Linked DNA regions of Homo sapiens: region 2 is linked to region 1. Evidence: fine-mapped expression QTL. A gene starts in region 1. The other region holds a variant in brackets. All regions are shown on one strand. Distances are between the middles of the regions.

Evidence for each region. PIP is the estimated chance that this variant, and not a neighbour inherited with it, causes the effect. A credible set is the group of variants that fine-mapping cannot tell apart.
Region 2: its variant is the best candidate, but not a certain one, in a credible set for the expression of CRIP2 in left ventricle (GTEx, PIP 0.55).

Annotation. Positions count from the first base shown.
Region 1 is chr14:105,472,684-105,477,052 of GRCh38, reverse strand. CRIP2 (cysteine rich protein 2) reads right to left here and starts at 2,232. Exons shown (of 8, transcript NM_001312.4): 1 at 2,148-2,232. The coding sequence starts at 2,190. RefSeq lists silencers at 2,210-2,319, 2,500-2,569, 2,840-2,989, 3,080-3,169, 3,180-3,229 and an enhancer at 3,258-3,790.
Region 2 is chr14:105,194,696-105,199,064 of GRCh38, reverse strand. No RefSeq gene overlaps it. Among named protein-coding and RNA genes, the nearest start is that of NUDT14, 16 kb to the right of the region's middle. RefSeq lists enhancers at 1,622-2,403, 2,404-3,185. The variant G/A (reference allele first, on the strand shown) is at 2,531.

The DNA of each region.
Region 1 (4,369 bases):
CCAGTGGCTCTCCCAGCTCCCTTTCTCAGCAAGTGGCCCAGCCCCCTTTGTCTGGCAGATATCGGGGAGGGGCATCTGGCTAGGGCGAAGCCCACTCTGAGAGGCCCAAGGGTGCTGCTCCTGGCAGTGAGATGGGATCCCCCAGGTGGCCTACTAGGTAGAGGGCTGTGAATACTGGCTCTCCGTGGCCCTGGTACAACCCTCTGGGCATGGCCAGGGCCAGCCTCCAGGACACCAGCCCAACCACAAGGCTGCACCAGCTTAGAGCCCTCTGACCAGAACCACTCCACTCAAGGAAGCTGGGACACACCAGGGCAGGCAGGGGCTGGCTGCACGGTGGGCAGGCGTGTCCCAGCAGCAGCAAGGAAGTCTCGGTGGCTATCGGCCGTGGCAGCTGCAGCCCAGGGCTGCCAGCACTGTGCTCTGGCCAGCTCTGGGACGTGGGCCAAGTGGGGGCAGGGAACTGGCCCTCAGACCCACTGGGTGGGTCAATGGCCACACATTACGGGTCCGAGTTGGGAACACAGAATCGATTGGGTCTAATGGCTCAGAAGAAAACCAGCTGCCCACCCTGGCTGCATGGGCTCTGGGGTGGCCTCCTCAATGTGCTCCGACATCCCAGCCTGGGTTCTACTCAGGTATGAGCTGCGGGGGCAGCCTGGTGTGAGGGTGGGCAGGATTCTGGACCCTCGCCCTCACAGTGCCTCCCAGGCAGGACAGAAGCCAGCCGGGTCTGAAGCGCCTTTGTTTTCCGCTGAGAGGCTGGGCGGGCCAGGCAGGCAGGCCTTTCCGGGCTGTCCACAGGACTGTTGGCCGAGACCCTGGAGAGCCCCAGGCTGGCCTGGCCCGGCCTGGGGTAAAGTCATGGGCAGTTGGACTGCAGAAGGGCCCTGGGGACCGTCTCCCACCCTAAGCCTTACAGAGACAGCCCTCGCTGGGACAGAGACTGAGGGCTGAGCGGGCTCCAGGAGAGGCAGCCGGAAGCCCCTCGGCTCCCAGCCACGCCAGAAGCACTCCAGGCCAAATCCGGTCCCTCCCCTCTGGGACGGGCAAAATACAACCTCCCCTCAACCCCCTCCAGCCTGTGAGCCGGGGAAGCCCAGTGGCGGCCTTCCCTGCAGCCTGGCCGCATTCTGGGTATGGGGCGACCAGGGCAGGCGCCCTGTTGGTCCCGGCCCTCCTCTCTGCTTCACTAAGTCTGCCCCCCTTCGTGCAGCAGCTGGTGGGTAGGTGGGCAGGGACCTTACCACCCTGGAGAAAGCTGGGCAGCGAATCAGCCAGGAGGAAGGGGGTAGGAAGGGCGCACCCAGGCCCAGAGAGTGAGTAAGCCCAGACGGGGGGAGCGCGCCTGCCGGAGGGGCTAGACCGAGGGCCGCCTTGCGAGACATCCCTCTTCCCGCCACCACCTGCATCCTGTCCAGGGCTGTTCTGACCTTGAGGAGGCAGGGATCCTGGACACCTGGGCTGCTTGAGCACAAGGTCCCTCTCACGTTCGCGGGAACTCGCGTGTCACACCCGCCCCCACCCTACCCCCGTGTGAAACTCCTGGGGGAACTGGCGCCAAGGGAATGCGTCGGGACAAGCAGGAGGCAGAGGCCAAGGTCGCCCCCGCTTGGACTGAATCCCGACAGAGTCCAAACCTGGCCCAGCCCAGCTCAGCGGAGCCCGGAGTGGGAGCTGGGGGTCACTGTTCCCGGCCACTTGTTCCCGGGGGAAGCGGGTGTAGGGGGTCCAGGAGAAAGGGCCCAGGCCCACGGGAGCGCGCGGGACGCACCCGGGGCGTACAGCCACGCCCTGCCCCGCCCCGCCCGGCGCCGTCCGAGGAACCGGGATGCGTCCGCGGATCCCCGAGCGCTCCCCCAAACACTGGCCTCATCCCGGGGCACCACAAGCCCCGCCCGGGTGGTCCCTGCCCCGCCCCCACAAGCCGCTTCGGGGTTCGGGCGTGACCGCCCCCGCTTTCGCGCAGCCCCACCCTTTGGCTTTAGCCGCTTGGGCAGCGCGGCCAGCCAGCCTCCGGGACGCGCATCCTCGGTCCGGGGCCGGGGCCGGGCGCACCCCGAGTTACGCCGCGGCTCTGCGGCGCGGGACTGGCCGCGAAGGGCGGCGGGATGCACCGAGCGGGCCGGGAGCGGGCACGCACTCACCGAAGTACACGGTCTTGTCGCACTTGGGGCATTTGGAGGCCATGGTCGGTGCGCCCGGTCGGCCCGCGCCCTCCGCCCGTTCTCCTCCGGGCCGCCGCCGCCCGCGCCCAGCCCCGCCTGCCCGGCTGTCCGCGCGCCCATTGGCTCCGCGGCCGGGGCGGGGCCTCGATAACCCGTCCCCCGGGCTGGGGGCCGCCTGGGGGCGCCGCGGGGGCGGGGCGCACCTGCCGGGGGTGGCGGGTGCGGGGCAGCCGGGCCAGGCCTGGCGCCCCCGGGCCCCTCGCGCCGGAGGTGGCGTCTACAGGGGCCCGCCCGGGCGACCGCGGCGCCGCCCGCGCCCCGGCTGTTTCCATGGCGACGTCGGGGCCGCCTGGCCGGGCCGTCCCCGGGGCGGCGGGCAGGGTGCGGGGAGCCTGGCCCTCGGCTCTCGGGGAGCCCTAGTGACTTGGGCCTAGGGGTCCAACACTCCCGGCCCTGGGCGCCCAGGCTGCGCTCCGCCGCGGGAAGGGGTCGCAGGCTCCGGGAGAACCCCACCCCCACCCCGCCGCGCGCGGCGCCTGTCCCGCTTCCCTTTGTTGCTCGGTTTCCATAGCAACAGCCGCGCCGCGGGAGCGGAGTCAGATTCCCGGCGGGCACGGCCCCCAGCCCTGTCCGGGTCTCCATGTCCCGCTCCGCCCCCGCCCGCGCCCCGCCCCAACACTGTCTGTGGTGCTGAAGGCTCCTTGGGTGGAGGGCAGGGCTCAGGAAGGAAGGCGCCGCCACCTCCAGAAACAGCTCGAGAAGCTGCTGGTAGGGGGTGTGGGGAGGTCTGCGTCTGCCTCCCAGGCAGGGAAGGGGCGGCGGGCACCAGCGCCGAGGGATCCGCGCTTAAGGCGTCCACCCCAAGCACTTCCACCCAGGGGGCGGCCGGGGAGGCGGTGAGGAGTTAGGAAGGGAAGGAGGGGAAGGAGTGGGCGTGCCCTCTGTGCCCCGGGCTGGGGCTGACACTCCAGTCCCTTCTCCCGCACCGCCCAGGACCAGCTGCGTGCCTGGGGGCCCAGGGCCTGACCTCGAGGGGTCAGGCGGGAGATTGAGGGGTCATGCCAGTCACCGCACCCCCACACCCCCACTCTGGCCTCCTCCCAACCAGGGCGTGCCTGACCACGCCTCACCACAGTGCCTCCGCCCTAGAGCCCCGTAGAGCCTGGCCCCAGGTGGGGAACCTCCGCACCCACGGGCTTCCTGGTGCTCTGTCCCCATGGGCCCTTCTCTGAGCCTTCTGGCCCCAGCTGAGCGTCGGCCTGGGAGACAGGCAGATCCCAGAAGCCCAGTGATCAGGCCCTATGGGGGCAGCTGACTCTGGACACCCTTCCCCCTGTGTCTTGGAGGCTGTGGGCTGGACACGGAGACCTACCTGTTCCCTCTGCCTGGTGCACCAGGCATGTTTGTGAGCCAACCAGAGGCCCTCGGTGCTCCTGGCTTTCATGGTGGTCCTGGCTGGGCTCTCTGTGGCAGCACCCTCCTCCCTTGCACACACACCCTGCAGCCACTGCCATTTCCATGGTGACAGCAGGCCAGAAACATGCCCCCCGCCCCCCCGCCCGACTGACCAGCCTGACCAGCTCCCCCTCTGCACTTGGGACCTGTGCCAGCCAAGGCAGAAGATGGTGAGGAGGCATCAGTCAGTACCTTTTCTGGGCAGCCCTTCCTCCCTGGCAGGCCCAGGGGTCCCTAGGGGTCCCTCACAGCAGGGCCTTGCCCAGGCTGGATTCATGGGCCCACTGCCAAACCCTCTCCAGCTCCCTGCCCTGTTCTGCCCAGCTTGGGAGCCTGGGGCTAAGCCATTACCCTCCCTGACTTTGCTACCTGTGGGGCTTGCTACCTGTGGGGCTTGCTCTGGAGGACAGGGCTGGCTGAACACAGGGCTCTTCTGGAGGGAGACCACCTGCCCCAAGGTCCCCAGCCCTGCCAGAAGAGTGGATGGGGGTAGAGGCAGGCCCCTCCCAGGGTGGCAGCAAAGGAATGGCATTCGGCACTGGCCAGGTGCCCTGGAGACACACGGAGGGTGGGGTGGGACAAGGAGTGTGCCAGCTGCTGCACTGCCCTCACCCCAGCCGCAGTCCCTGGGCAGCGGCCAGAAGCTCCCTAATGCGACGGGGCTATTCTGGGCCTGGCAGGCAGGGGTCAGGATCAATGGGTGCAGAGCAGTGGCCTTGGTCTCCACCTCTGAGGCTGCGGTGGGT
Region 2 (4,369 bases), 280 kb after region 1:
CTATGGATCAGGGTGGAGTGGAGACGGTGGTCCCAGCAGGGCCACAACCAGGGCCAGGCCAGTGAGGTGGAGGAGGGTGTGGCAGGCAGGTATCCACTTGACCAGGCTTCGGAGAGGGTTCAGGGGTACCCAGGAGAGGGGGGTGCTCACAGCACATGGTAGGGCACTCTGGGGCTGGCTCCTTGGATGGCGGGGCCCTGGTTGGGCAACGATGCTCAGAGCCCCTGAGCCAGAAGGCAGCCTGCAGCACCCCAGCATTTCTGGCATACTGTGGTCACCACCCCAGCCCACCAGCAGGGGCCCAGGGTGATCATGCTCAGCACCACCGCTGCCAAGGTGGTCCTGTAGGACCTGCATAGGGGAGCTTCCCTAGAGCTCTGGTCACAGCCCCAGCACCCTCTCCCTGGTACCCCCACCTGACCTGACTCCTGGGGACCCCAGCAAATAAGCAGTCACCACTATCCACCTGCCCTGCCATGGCTTGCCACCGCCTCCAGGTTGCCACTCCAGAGCCTTGCTCCTGTCCCTGGTCCAGCATGGCCTCAGCTCCTGCTGTCCCCACCTGTGCCCCTGGGACTCCTTGCCCTCCCTGTCAGCACCCGGCTTTCCCCTGACTGGGGTCTATGCCCCGCTGTCCCTGCCTGTCACGCCTTTCCTCTGTCACCTCCTCCCTTGGCAAACTCAACCCAAGTGCCACCTCCAAGAAGCCTTCCTTGCCACCCTCACCCCCATGGCTGGGCCAGAACCTGCTCTGGGACCTCTGCAGCTGGCAAGTGTCTCTTTGTCCTGACTCTGCTCACCTTGTGTCATCCCTGTCCTGGCCAGTGGCTTGCTGAGGGAGGGGTCTGTGGCTGGTAGAGATGATGGCAAGAAGTGCCATGGGCTGGACGTCTGTCTGGGGCTTGCCAAGACCAAAGTGGGCCTGGGCTATCTCATCCTGCCCAGAAGAGAGGGGCTGCCTCAGTTTCCCCAAACCTTGAGTTCTTGCTCCTCCTTCAGCCCCCAGCCCCTGACCCCTCCCAGTGCCACACCCCTCCTGTGTGATTATCTAATCCTGGGGCAGCCAGGTGCCAGGCTGCTGCGGGAAAACGCTGAGACACCCCAACCCCTCCCGGCCCTTGCCCTAATGACAGCTCTGCACCTGCCCACACAAAGCCTTCCCAGATTCGAGTGGGAACGTGGTGCCCCTGAGCCCTCTGGAGCCAGCACAGCGCTGACTCCTGATCTCCCTGGGTGCTCAGGCCTGGGGATGGGGGACAGGGAGCCGCCTCTTCACTGGTCCTAGGTTCAGTCTCTGCCAACACAGAGCTGCCCCAGGCCTCGGGAGGAGGTAGAGTCTTCAAGGAGAGTCTTCCGGAAACATGGCCCTCGAGGACTCGGAGGCTGTCGGACAGTCCTGCAGAGTCCAGGGGGGTGGGGGGTGGGCAGGAATGTGGCCTCTCCCTCCCGATGGCCCTGCCCTGAGGCCCAGCTGGGGAGGATGTTCCTTGGAGCAGACCCCCCCCACCCCATGTCCCCTTGCCGCATACACAGGCATGAGGCCCAGGCTGCCCCTGGGGACAGCAAGTGACCGAACCCTGCAGAAAGCCAGGAGATGCTGCAGCCACGTGGCCAGCCCTCCCTGGCTGTCATTCTGTCCAAAACAATGCGAAGGAAACGCAGCCAAGCCCTGAGGCTCTCCAGTGTCATGACGTCTGGTGCATTTTGGGGAAATACCAAACATCACGCCCTCTTAAAAGCGCGGCTTCCTTGGCGTGCACAAGGGCCAGGCTCTCAGGCAGCTGGGTAGAGTCTGGCCCCCACATACTCTCGCCCCCCACCCCGACCCCGCCTGCCCAGGGCTTGGGCCGGACCCCCAGACCCCAGGGCGGGGTCAGGTGCAGGGACGGGGTCAGATCATAGAGGGCCCAGACTGCGGGACCCGCCGTATCCTAGGGGTTCAGATCTCCGGGCAGGGTCAGGTGCAAGGGGCAGGGCCAGATCCCAGGGGGTTCAGTTCGTCGGGGGAGGTAGAGGCGGGGCCAGATCCAAGGGGGGGTCAGACCGCGGGGCAGGGTCGGGGGGCAGGTGCTAGGGTGGCTCCCCGGTGCGCTCCTGGGATTGGTCCCGGGCGCTGGCTCCTCTTTAGTCCCCAGCGGGGCGGGCACGGCCCCCTGAGGCCGCAGCTGAGCCTCCCACTCCCGGCCTGCGGTCCCGAGTCCCGGCCGCACCTGCCGAGGCCCAGGCCGCGAAGGAGGGAAGGCCGAGCCGGGCATTAGCCCCCGCGCCGGGCGCCGCGGGGAGGGTCTTATCAGCGCGGGCAGCTGGCGGCCTGTCCCTGCGCGAGCGCCCCGGCCCAATTCAATGGCCATTGTCCGCCGGTCCCTTTGTTCTGAGGTGTCCGCTTCCTGCCAGGCTAGGAGCGGGCGGGCAGGAAACCCTCCGAGCCGAGGCCCAGACGAGGAGGCCGGCCCAGCCTGGGGTCAGAGGCGACGGCAGACCTGGCTCGGGGCTCCCGGGGGCTGGGGAGTGAGGCTGGGGCTCGGTGTGC[G/A]GTCTGCAGGGCGGGGGCAGGAGCGGGATGTCCCCTCCAGGGGGACACTGTGAGGGCGGGGCTCCCGCCTCCAGATCCTGCGGCGCTGGGGGCGGGTGGAGGAAGGAGGAGGAAGACCCTGAGACAGAGGGTGCCCCTCCCAGCTCTGCAGCCTTCCTCTGCTCCCTGCTGGATGACAGGCTCAGAGAGAGCGAGGGCAGGCTCAAGTTTCAGGGTCGTGAAAACCCAGCGCCCACGGCCTCCCATGCGGAAGACGCCCACCCAGGACCGTGGGCTGGGAAGAGGGGCTGAGGCCTGGGAGGGGAGTGATGCGGCCAGGGTTCATCCCTCCTTCACGGGGGCCCTGCGGCGCTCCTGACCATCTGAGGCCGTCTCCACCCCCTCGTCCTCTCTCCCCTGTGCTCCACGCTGCCCATTCACCAGGCCCCACAGGTTCGCCCAGCACAGCACCCTGGTTGGCTGGCCATCGGTTGTAAGCTCACCCGTAGCTGGGGCTGGGTCTCTGGGAGCTGGTGGGAGGGGGAGTTGGCACCAGTGCCACAGCCCACCGGTGCCCACCAGAGCTCCCCATGGCACTCGAGGCCACTGAACCAGCTGGAGCAGGATGGCCACAGCCGCTGCTCACTTCCCACCATGTGCCCTGGGGTCTCCTGCAGTTCCTTTTTCCGAGACCCCCTGGGTGCCTTCCCAGCAAAGCCCTGGCCCTGACTCAGGCCAACTCAATCAGCAAACGGAAGCCACCGCGGGGATTTCAAACAGCAGAACTTAATGCGAACAGCTTGGAGGGGATGCAGGAACGTAGAGAGGAGAGTCTGGCAAGCCGGAAATCAATTTCCTGCTGCAAGAGGCAGCCGGCAGGTGGGGTTGGGGGGGGTGCTAGCCAGGTCCCACTGCTGCCGTGTCCCCACAGATTGGGCCAGTGGTTCACCCCCTCTTGCTGACGTCCCTGCCGTCATCACCACTGCCTCTTTCTGTCCCCATGTCCGCCACCACCATCATCACCTGAAGTTGCCACTGACGGACAAACATGGCCTGTCCCTCCTCCTTCTGGACTTCCTTGGACAGAGCTTCCAGGGAAGTCAGCAAGAGAGTGTGGGAGATGCGGAGGCAGCCTTCCCTGGTGGAGAGGAGGCCCCCCACCCTCCAGCTCACGGGCACGGTGGGCCCCAGGTGGGGAGGAGGCCCCCCACCCTCCAGCTCATGAGTACAGCGGGCCCCGGGTGGAGAGGAGGCCCCCCACCCTCCAGCTCCCAGGCACAGTGGGCCCCAGGTGGAGAGGAGGTCCCCCACCCTCCAGCTTACAGGCACAGTGGGCCCCAGGTGCAGAGGAGGTCCCCCACCCTCCAGCTCACAGGCACAGTGGGCCCCAGGTGGACAGGAGGTCCCCCACCCTCCAGCTCACGGGCACGGTGGGCCTGGGGGCCACGTGCACATGGCTTTCAGCATTCCCACCTACAGCTCCTCCCGGGAACTCGATGAGAGCAAGCCAATGGCCATCCCAGCCCAGCTGCTTGTCCCTTGGACAAGTCTTCCCTGCCTCTGAGGCTCCTGGGGGAGTTCACACAGGTGAAAGGAGGTGCCAGATCTTAGTGGGCACTCTACAAGCAGCAGCACGTGTTTATGAAGGGCCTGGCACGAACCGGGGCACTCTGGGGAGCCATGCCATGCTGCCTATGAACCAGAGAAGTGGGGAGGCAGCCCTTGGCATAAGGAGCCAGAGGGCACACAGCCCAGGAAATGGAACAGGGCCCTGAATCTGAGTCTCCTGTGTGAGCTCAGGTCCTCTGAGAAGAGGACACCAGGATCCCATGCAGGTGCGATTCAGCTGGGGAAATGCAG